Regions from separate parts of the Homo sapiens genome. Here region 2 is linked to region 1. The links come from fine-mapping of genetic effects on gene expression. A gene starts in region 1. The other region holds a variant in brackets. All regions are shown on one strand. Distances are between the middles of the regions.

The links. PIP is the estimated chance that this variant, and not a neighbour inherited with it, causes the effect.
Region 2: its variant is fine-mapped to the expression of COMMD7 in whole blood (TOPMed, PIP above 0.99).

Annotation. Positions count from the first base shown.
Region 1 is chr20:32,740,874-32,746,246 of GRCh38, reverse strand. It overlaps COMMD7 (COMM domain containing 7), which reads left to right and starts at 2,780. Exons shown (of 9, transcript NM_053041.3): 1 at 2,780-2,939. The coding sequence starts at 2,856. RefSeq lists enhancers at 1,285-2,229, 3,117-3,944, 4,614-5,115 and silencers at 2,525-2,754, 2,935-3,004, 3,989-4,163.
Region 2 is chr20:32,768,994-32,774,366 of GRCh38, reverse strand. The region is part of intron 1 of DNMT3B (DNA methyltransferase 3 beta); the gene reads right to left. Among named protein-coding and RNA genes, the nearest start is that of DNMT3B, 9.3 kb to the right of the region's middle. RefSeq lists enhancers at 1-657, 3,627-4,128. The variant A/G (reference allele first, on the strand shown) is at 3,064.

The DNA.
Region 1 (5,373 bases):
TGGTGGGATTTCGGCTCACTGCAATCTCTGCCTACTGGGTTCAAGCGATTTTCCTGCCTCAGCCTCTAGAGTAGCCGGGATTACAGGCATGAACCACCATGCCCGGCTAATTTTTGTATTTTTAGTAGAACCAGGGTTTCACTATGTTGGCTAGGCTGGTCTTGAACTCCGGACCTCAGGTGATCCACCGGCCTCAGCCTCCCAGAGTGCTAGGATTACAGGCATGCGTCACTGCGCCCAGCCCAGATCTTCTTTTTTAACAAGGTTAAAAATATTTAAAAATAAAAATTCCGGGCCAGGTGCAGTGGCTCACGCCTGTAATGCCAGCACTTTGGGAGGCTGACGCAGGTGGATCACTTGAGGTCAGGAGTATGAGACCAGCCTGGCCAATGCGGTGAAAACCCATCTCTAGTAAGAAGACAAAAGTTGGGCCAGGTGCGGTGGCTCGCGCCTGTAAACCCAGCACTTTGGGAGGCCGAGGCAGGCGGATCACCTGAGGTGGGGAGTTCAAGACCAGCCTGACCAACATGGAGAAACCCGTCTCTACTAAAAGTACAAAATTAGCCGGGGTGGTGGCACATGCCTGTAATCCCAGCTACTTGGGAGGCTGAGACAGGAGAATCACTTGAACCCGGGAGGCGGAGGTTGCAGTGAGCCGAGATCTCGCCATTGCACTCCAGCCTGGACAAAAAGAGCAAAACTCCGTTTCCAAAAAAAAAAAAAAAAGACAAAAGTTAGCTGGGTTTGGTGGTGGCCACCTGCATTCCCAGCTATTCGGGAGGCTGAGGCTGGAGAATCACTAGAACCCGGGAAGCAGAAATTGCAGTGAGCCGAGATTGTGCCACTGCACTCCAGCCTGGGTGACAGAGCCAGAATCTGTCTCAAAAAAAAAAAAAAAAAAAATTCTTGCACGGTGAGTAGGGCCTCTGAGTTCCTGTCTGTTTGTCACCCGAAGGTTTATTCTCTTCCAGGTACTCCAAACTCGGACTGTGTCCTGTACACATTCTCAAAGCACCTCCTACTTTTTGGCATCCCTTAATACTTTCACACACACTTGCGTCTGCCCCCTGGGTCAATTCTGACTTCTCAGAGGCCAGGCACTGCATCTGGTTCATCTGGTTGTGTCACTGTGGAATCCCCACCCCCTATCATGTCATGGTATCTGCCTCACAGCAGACCTTCTTTTTTTTTTATGGAGATGTGGTCTTGCTCTGTCGCCCAGGCTGGAGTGCAGTGGCGCCATCTGGGTTCACTGCAGTCTCGATCTCAAGATCTCAAGTGATCCTCTTGCCTCAGCCTCCGAGTAGCTGGGACCACAGGCATGTGCCACTCAATATTTGTTGAATGAATGTATGAATGATATAATGACTGAAGGGGATGGGCTTGGCCTTTGGGTAGAAGACTTTTTTGTTTTTTCTTTGAGACGGAGTTTCGCTCTTGTTGCCCAGGCTGGAGTGCAATGGCGCGATCTCGGCTTACCGCAACCTATGCCTCCCGGGTTCAGGGAATTCTCCTGCCTCAGCCTCCCGAGTAGCTGAGATTACAGACATGCACCACTACGCCCGGCTAATTTTGTATTTTTAGTAGAGACGGAGTTTCTCCATGTTGAGGCTGGTCTCAAACTCCTGACCTCAAGTGATCCGCCCGCCTCAGCCTCCCAAAGTGCTGGGATTACAGGAGTGAGCCACCGCGCCGGGCCGGGTAGAAGACATTTTGTTTATACTTTTACAGAAGGGATTTTCAGGAAAGGGTAGAGGAGAGGAGGAGGGCTGGTGAGGAAGGCCAGCCAAACCCCCCACATTTCCCTGCTCCAGGTTTCTCGGCATTACCTCTTTACCCTCAAGGCTGGACTTAGGGGCTAGGTGAAGCCCTTAGGCTTGGCGTTCAGTTCCTAGATTCTGGGTAGCATGTCTCTATTTTCTCATGTTTCCAGTGGGGATTAGGGTAATATTCACCTGGGAACTGTGAGGAGCCCCTGGGAAGAGAGGGCATGGGGGTTAGAGTGTTTGAGGGGCTGCAGTGATGATCACGGTCTCAGTAACCTCCCCTCACCCACCTCACCACCACCCTCCCTGCCCCGCACAGTCAAAGCCCTCGCACTATTTTGAGGAAACTTTGGTAAGTCAGTTTCTTCCACTCCAGAAGGTCTCAAAGTGTAGTCCCTGGGTGCTTATTGGAAATGCAAATTCTCAGGCTCCACCCTGGCCTTTCGAATCAGATCCTCTGGGGGCGGGGCCCGGCAATACCAGGTGATGCTGGGGTGATGCTGATGCCCTTCCAAGGTTGAGACCTAGTCTCTACTCTGATGTCAGCTCTCCGAGAGACACTCTGGCCTGCTTTGTTCCCTTCCCTGTCCCCAGTGTCTGGCATCGAGTAGGCTGCCATAAATATCTCTGGAGTGCATAGTAACAGTGATGATGATAATAGCAGCTAGCCATTGATTGAAGACCTCTTGTGTGCCGGTCTCTGCGTTAAACATTTCTGGAGGCTTAACTCATTTAAGGAGCTACCCCAGCCATCATTTTCTCAGATGGTGAAACTGAGGTTCAGAGAGGCCAAGCGCCGTACCCAAAGGTCACTCAGCGGGAGAGCTGGCAGGAAACCTCGCGTCTGCCGGTGCCGGCGCCGCCCCTGCCCCTCCCCGGAGCCCGGCGGCCGCGCGTGTCCGCGGCCCTGCGAGGGCTCCCCGGCTCCGGACAGCCCAGGGCGGCCGGGGGAGGAGTGCGCTGCGACGGCCGTGGCGAAAGTGCGGTTGTGGATGCGCGGAGAGGCCGGCAGCGGTGGCAGCGGCAGCGGAGGAGGAAGCTGAGCAGGGCGGCGGCGGCGGTGGAACCTGCGGGGCTGGGGCGCGCGCCATGGGCCGCCTGCACTGCACTGAGGACCCGGTGCCGGAGGCCGTGGGCGGCGACATGCAGCAGCTGAACCAGCTGGGCGCGCAGGTGGGCCCGGCGGCGGGGCGTGGGGCGCGGGGCCCAGGTGATTCCAGGATCCGGGCCTGGGGTGGGGGGGACGTCCGGGGGTGCGCGGGAGTTGGGAGAGACTAGACAGAGCGGCGTCTTGTGGGCGTTTGGGGTGTGTGAGGTGGGTTCGGGGCGAGGCTAAGGTGAGCTGGGGTCTGAGGAGAGTGTGGGGAGCCAAGGGATCTCCGGAGGCCTAAGGGCCACCTGAGGGGTCCGAAAGGCTTTGTGGGGTCTCAGAGATGGGACTACGGGACCTCTGCGGGGTCCTGGGGCCGAGGAGAGCTTTTGGGGTCCTAGAAGAGGGACGGAGGGGAGTCTAGATGAGGCTGAAGGAGTTTGGGGAACTGAAGGAACAGACTAAGGGCGTGGGGAGTTTTGGGGAGCAGTGGGGTCCAAAGGGAGATAGATGTTTGGCAGGGAGGCCGAGGAAGCCTGAGGGGAGTGGGAGGGCCCGAGAATCTGAGGGGGCCCGGGGAAGCTTGGCCTGGGCTGCCGTCTTACATCTCAGTGTGACATGAGTGTCAGTAATAGCCAGGCCCCACTGGGGCTCTGTGGGCCTGAGGGGCTCGATCTGGGACAAGGCTGATGACACCTTCCACCTCCACCCAGTTAAGGAGAGTCACTGGGATTCACATGGAAAGAAACCTTATACACTGTGTACAGTGGGGGTCTTCATCCTCGATGGTAGGGGAGCTAGCAAAGCCTTTTTCTCCCCCTTCAGGCTGCAGGTGCCAACCAAGGCAGTCTTGGAGGCATCCTGCTTCTGTGCTGGTTGGGATGCCTTTTCATACCACCAAGGCTGCTGAAATAGGTGAGAATGACACTTCTCACCCCCACTGGGAAGATACATCTATTTCCCCCGCTAGGTTGTCACTTCCCAGGAGGTAGCGCCCCTCTTCTTTCATCTCCATACCCCCCACAACTTCCCACACAGTAGTGCTGCTTGCGAGATAAAAACCAAACTTAGAACTTGTAACGACAGGAAGGTTCTAAGCTTGAGCTATGCAATAGAAAAATTTGCAAGCCACATTTCTAACTTTGCATTTTGTAGTAGCCACATTTAAAAATTAAATAGAAATGGAAATTAATTTTTTTTTTTTGAGACGTAGTCTCATTCTGTCACCCAGGCTGGAGTGCAGTGGCGCGATCTCGGGTCACTGCAACCTCCGCCTCCCAGGTTCAACCAGTTCTCTGTCTCAGTCTCCCGAGTAACTGGGACTACAGGCACACGCCACCATGCCCAGCTAATTTTTGTATTTTTAGTAGAGATGGGGTTTGACCATGTTGGCCAGGCTGGTCTTGAACACCTGACCTCAGGTGATCTGCCCACCTCAGCCTCCCAGAGTGTTGGGATTACAGGCGTGAGCCACTGTGCCCAGCCCTGAGTTTATCTTATGCAAGCATCCTAGAGTTTATTTACACAAACCTACTGCACCCTAGGATATATGGTATAGCGCATTGCTCCTAGGCTACAAACCTATACAGCATGTGACTGTACTGAATACCATAGGCAACTGGACTATAATGGTAAATATTTGTGTGTTTAGACAAATCTAAATAGAAAAGGTACAGTACAAATACAGTATAAAAGATAAAAAATAGGCCGGGCACGGTGGCTCACACCTACCCTAGGACTTTGGGAGGCCAAGGTGGGCGGATCACAAGGTCAGGAGATCGAGACCATCCTGGCCAACATGATGAAACCCTGTCTCTACTAAAAATACAAAAATTAGCTGGGTGTAGTGGCGGGCACTTGTAGTCCCGGCTACTCTGGAGGCTAAGGCAGGAGAATCGCCTGAACCTGAGAGGTGGAGGTTGCAGTAAGCTGCGATTGCACCACTGCATTCCAGCCTGGGCAATAGAGTGAGACTTCATCTCAAAAAAAAAAAAACAACTTTCTAGTTGGGTACGGTGGCACAGCTACCACAGTAGTCCCAGCTACTTGGGAGGCTGAGACAGGAGGATCACTTGAGCCCAGGATTTCAAGGCTGTAGTGCATGGTGATTCCACCTGTGAATAGCCATTGCACTCCAGCCTGGGCAGCATAGTGAGACCCCCATCCCTAAAAAAAAATTTTTTTTTTTCTGTTTTTGATAAGTTGACCTTAGCCTACTGTCAGTTTTTTTTTGTTTGTTTGTTTGTTTTAGACGGAGTCTTCCTCTGTCACCCAGGCTGGAGTGCAGTGGCGTGATCTTGGCTCACTGCAAACTTCACCTCCTGGGCTCAAGTGATTCTTTTGCCTCAGGCTCCCAAGTAGCTGGGACTACAGGCGTGCACCACCATGCCTGGCTAATTTTTGTATTTTTAGTAGAGACAGCGTTTCACCATGTTGGCCAGGCTGGTCACGAACTCCTGACCTCAAGTGATCTGCCTGCCTCAACCTCCCAAAGTGCTGGGATTACAGGCGTAAGCC
Region 2 (5,373 bases), 28 kb before region 1:
ATGGTGGTGAGCACCTGTAGTCCCAGCTACTCCGGAGGCTGAGGCAGGAGAATGGTGTGAACCTGGGAGGCAGAGCTTGCAGTGAGCGGAGATAGCACCACTGCACTCCAGCCTAGGTGACAGAGCGAGACTCCGTCTCAAAAAAAAAAGAAAAAAAAGACACCATAAAACAATGCAGTAAGTAAGCCCAGGGAGGGACACCACACCTAGGTGAAGTAGAGAGCGGGAAGGATCCAGGCAGCAGGGACAGCACATCCAAAGGAAAGGGGGCCAGACTCAGGCTGTCCACACTGGCGGCGGCAGCAGAACACATGACAGAACACAAGGTCCCAGTACTGTGCTTTTGCTCTGTCTGATAAGGAACTTACCCTAAATTCCAGAAAACATCAGATTTACAGGAAAGCGTAAAAAAAAAAAAAAAAAAAAAAAAAACCACTGCCGGGCGCAGTGGCTCATGCCTGTTAATACCACCACTTTAGGAGGCCAAGGCTTGAGCTTGGGCTCAGGAGTTCAACGCCAGCCTGGGCAACACAGCAAAACCTCTTCTCTATTAAAATATTTCTTAAAATTAGCTGAATGTGTCGGCCTGCCCCTGTAGTCCTAGCTACTCGCCTGTAGTCCCACCTCCTCGGAGGCTGATGGGGAATGATCACCTAAGCCTCGGAAGTTGAGGCTGCAGTAAAGCTATCGTCATGCCACTGCACTCTAGGCCCAGTGACAGCACAAGACCCTGTTATAAAAAAAAAAAAAAAAAGCCCAATATTTCTCTCAAACCCCAGTTTTATAATCTGTGAAATAAAGTAACCCACCCAATTCACTGGGAAGTTGGTACCAAGGACCCCTACATAGATGACACAGTCATGATACCTGAAGTCACTTATTCTCATGTGCCATCTGGCTACCCACCACAGCACCACACCACAGGGCCAATCAAGAAGTATCCACCCCATCACCCTCCACAATTCAGAATGCGTTTGGGGAATTGCTCAGTGCCTCTAGGTCATGAGTACATGTACCACTGTCATCCTACAGTAGAAGCTGGGCCCTTGGCATAGTAAGCAGAATTATCAGAAGAGTGTGTCCATACAAAAAATAAACTAGGCGTGGTGGCACACACCTATAGTCCCAGCTACTCAGGAGGCTGAGGCAGGAGAATCGCTTGAACCCGGGAGGTGGACGTCGCAGTGAGCCACTGCACTCCAGCCTGGGCAACAGTACAGGCTCAGGCTCCCTCTCAAAAAAAAAAAAAGCCAGGCACAGTGGCTCACGTCTGTGATCCCAGCACTTTGGGAGGCCGAGGAGGGCGGATTACATGAGGTCGGGAGTTCAAGACCAGCCTGACCAACATGGAGAAACCCCGCTCTCTACTAAAAATACAAAATTAGCCGGGGTGGTGGCACATGCCTGTAATCCCAGCTACTCGGGATCGTGCCATTGCACTCTAGCCTGGGCAACAAGAGCGAAACTCCATCTCAAAAAAAAAAAAAAAAAATGTGTCCAAACAGGGAAAAACCAGACAAGTGGCTATCTGCAGACTGTGCATGACACCAAAATATACTCAGATGTTTGTCAACGCACTGGAATAAAATAATGTCATTACCTTTTAGATAAGTAACAGGAAAAAAAAAACTAGGACCATAAAGATCTGAAAAGATATGACAGTAACTTTAGAGTCTAAACTTTTTGCCCTTTATACAGAAATCACAAACACCCAGCCCCTTCCCCTATATCCACTTTGAGAACCCCTTGAAGGGTGTGGCAGCCCCAAGGAGTGGTCAATGGTAACTCAGAGAATGAGGGGCAGCATTGGAGCAGAATCCTAGGCACTGCTATGCCCAATTCCTGTGGCCACCTACCCCTTGGCAAAATCAGAGCCAACAGCCCTGTCCCCTCCCAAGGGGGCAAAGGAGGTCAATATTCTGGAAAGAGACCCCCTCAACCTTGGCCCCTCCCTCACAGCAGGCTGCACCTGTGGCTTCAACTAAGAACGCCTTAAATCTCAAGTCTACCTATCTACACAGTATTTAGTCATCTTAAGCCTAAATACCTACACAGCAGGGATACTGGTTCAGTCTTTGGGATAGTAATCTTCACTGTGTCATCTAAAATGCCTAATGTCTATATCCTGTTACACAGGATTCTACTGCTCAGAAACCACCCAGTTCAAAGCTCTCGCCAAGGCCTCTGTGCAAGGGGGTTGCTGCAGTCCCATTTGTCATAGCAAACACTGCAATCAAATCACGGTCAAGAGGACTGGTTGACTAAATTACCTGCTTCCACAATAGGGGGCAAAGAGTGCAGTACTTATTGTTAGACAAAGTTATGTAAAGTGAAAACAAGAAACCTGCATAATGCAACATCAATTATTGATGTTTAAGCCATTTCTCTGCAGCATTTCTTCTCTAACTATAAAAATTCATACTCAGAAGGAAGGTTTGGGGGGTAACTACCTTAAGCCCATGTAACTTTTACAATCGGAAAACATAACTCGCCTGTCTGAGAAACATTTATTTGAATTAGGCCACTCAGGTTTAATCAACATAATTATTTGATTATTTGTATATGGTATGAGATAGGGACCTAATATTTTTCCCCGTAAGTAAAGCCAGACACCTATGAATACATCCCAACTCTATCTCTTATTTGAACTTCCCATATATATGTAATATGTTTTGAGGCTCACTTTTGTTTGGTATTTATCCTTTACCACTCCTTTTTTTTTTTTTTTTTTGAGATGCGGTCTTGCTCTGTTGCCCAGGCTGGAGTGCAATGGCATGATCTCGGGTCACTGTAACCCCTCCACCTCCTGGGTTCAAGTGATTCTCCTGCCTCAGCTTCCTTGGGATTACAGGCACATGCCACCACGCCCGGCTAATTTTTGTATTTTTAGTAGAGATAGGGTTTCAGTATGCTGGCCAGGCTGGTCTCGAACTCCTGACCTCAGGCGATCCGCCCACCTCAGCCTCCCAAAGTGCTGGGATTACAGGTGTGAGCCACTGCACCCAGCCATTGCCACTACTTTTAATCACTACAACTGCTAGAGCAAGCCTGCAAGCCTTATTG[A/G]AAAGTTCATTTTCTCCCTTTAGTTTGTGGTCTCTCATTTCCTGTTCTCTTCTGCTCTCTAGATTTCTTTAAGGGAGCTTAGTTCTTCTACCAACAGATAAAGGCACAGCATTTTTAGTTGTTTCAACATGGATAGACTTTCAAATAAATTATTTCTATCGTAACCAGAAAATATGTCCTTGCACACTATGTATTGAAAAGGTAAAAATCACAACACAAAGAAAAGCTAGAAATGTTATATTCACAGCAAAAAAAAAGATGCCAGGGACAGTGGCTCATGCCTGTAACCCCAGCAATGTGGGAGGCCTAGGCAGGAGGATTGCTTGAGCCCAGGAGTTCAAGATCAGCCTGGGCAACAAAGTGAGACCCCAACATTACAAAAAAAAAATTTAGGCCGGGCATGGTGGCTCATGCCTGTAATCCCAGCACTTTGGGAGGCTGAGGCAGGCAGATCACCCGAGGTCAGGGGTTCAAGACCAGCCTGACCAACACGGAGAAACCCCGTTTCCACTAAAAATACAAAATTAGCCGGGCATGGTGGCACATGCCTGTAATCCCAGCTACTCAGGAGGCTGAGGCAAGAGAATCACTTGAACCCGGGAGGCGGAGGTTGTGGTGAACCAAGATCATGCCATTGCACTCCAGCCTGGGCAAAGAGCGAAACTCTGTCTCAAAAGGAAAAAAAAAAAAAAAGTAAGGCGGAGCATGGTGGCTCAAGCCTATAATTCCAGCACTTTGGGAGGCCAAGGTGGGCGGCTCACCTGAGGTCGGGAGTTCGAGACCAGCCTGATCAACATGGAGAAACCCCATCTCTACTAAAACAACAACAACAAACAAACCAACAAAAATTAGCTGGTGGTGGTGGCACATGCCTGTAATCCCAGCTACTTGGGAGGCTGAGGCAGGAGAATCGCTTGAACCTGGGAGGCAGAGGTTGCGGTGAGCTGAGATCACACCATTGCATTCCAGCCTAGGCAACAAGAGTGAAAAACTCTGCCTCAGAAAAAAAAAAAAATTACAAAAACTAGCCTGATGAGGTGGCGGGCACCTGTAATTCCAGCTACTCAGGAGGCTGATGCAGAAGAATCGTTTGAACCCAGGAGGTGGAGGTTGCAGTGAGCTGAGATCATGCCATTGCACTCTAGCCTGAGTGACAGAGCAAGACCCTGTCTCAAAAATAATTTTTTTTTAAATTAACTGAGCATAGTGGTGCACAAGTGCCTGTAGTCGAAGCTACTGGGCAGTGGGGGCTGCAGTGGGAGGACTGCTGGAGCATTGGAGTTGAGGCTACAGTGAGCTGTGATTGTAGTACTGAACTCCAGAGACCTGTCTTAAAAAATTTTTTAAAAAGTAAGAAATAACTGCTAGTACGTGTCATAACACAAATAAATCTCAAATATCTCACAATAAGTAAAAGAACCCAGACTCGAAGGGCTATATAATGTATGGTTCCTGCTTGAATTCAGGAGGCGGAAGTTGCAATGTGCCAAATCGTGCCACTGCACTCCAGCCTGGGCAACAGAGTGAGATGCTGTCTCAAAAATAATAATAATGTATGATTCCATTTATATGACATTCTGGAAAAAGCAGTACTGCAGGGACAGAAAACAAATCTCGAGAAGGAAAACAGAAATGTCAAAATTAAGGCCTGCAGATAAGGGAACTGCATATATACAAATGGCTTTAAAAGAAGCCCATGATCTCACATAAAAACCACTTTTCAAAAACTGTCCACAATTACCTAGTGGGGGCTCAGATCTGCCCACCCCAACGGTCAAGAAGCAGGCCTGTAAAACAGTCAGCTGAACCCACAGAGAGCACCAAAGCATCTTAACCCAGCGCATCTTGTGTGTCCTGCCAGTTCTGTGGGTTCAGCCATGTGCTGGCAGAGGTTTTGGAAAGAAATTTGCAACAGTGGGCCCGGCATGGTGGCTCACGCCTGTAATCCCAGTACTTTGGGAGGCCGAGGCGGGCAGATCACGAGGTCAGGAGATCAAGACCATCCTGGCGAACATGGTGAAACCCCGTCTCTACTAAAAATACAAAAAATTAGCCGGGCAAGGTGGCGGGCGCCTGTAGTCCCAGCTACTACTAGGGAGGCTGAGGCAGGAGAATGGCGTGAACCCGGAAGGCAGAGCTTGCAGTGAGCCGAGATCTCGCCACTGCACTCCAGCCTGGGCGACAGAGCAAGACTCCGTCTCAAAAAATAAAAAAATTTGCAACAGTGTTTTAATGCAGTTCTACTCCTTGCTAGTTTTGTGGTTGTAGTAACAATCATATTTAGTACTGAGCAATTCCCCTAATTCAGCA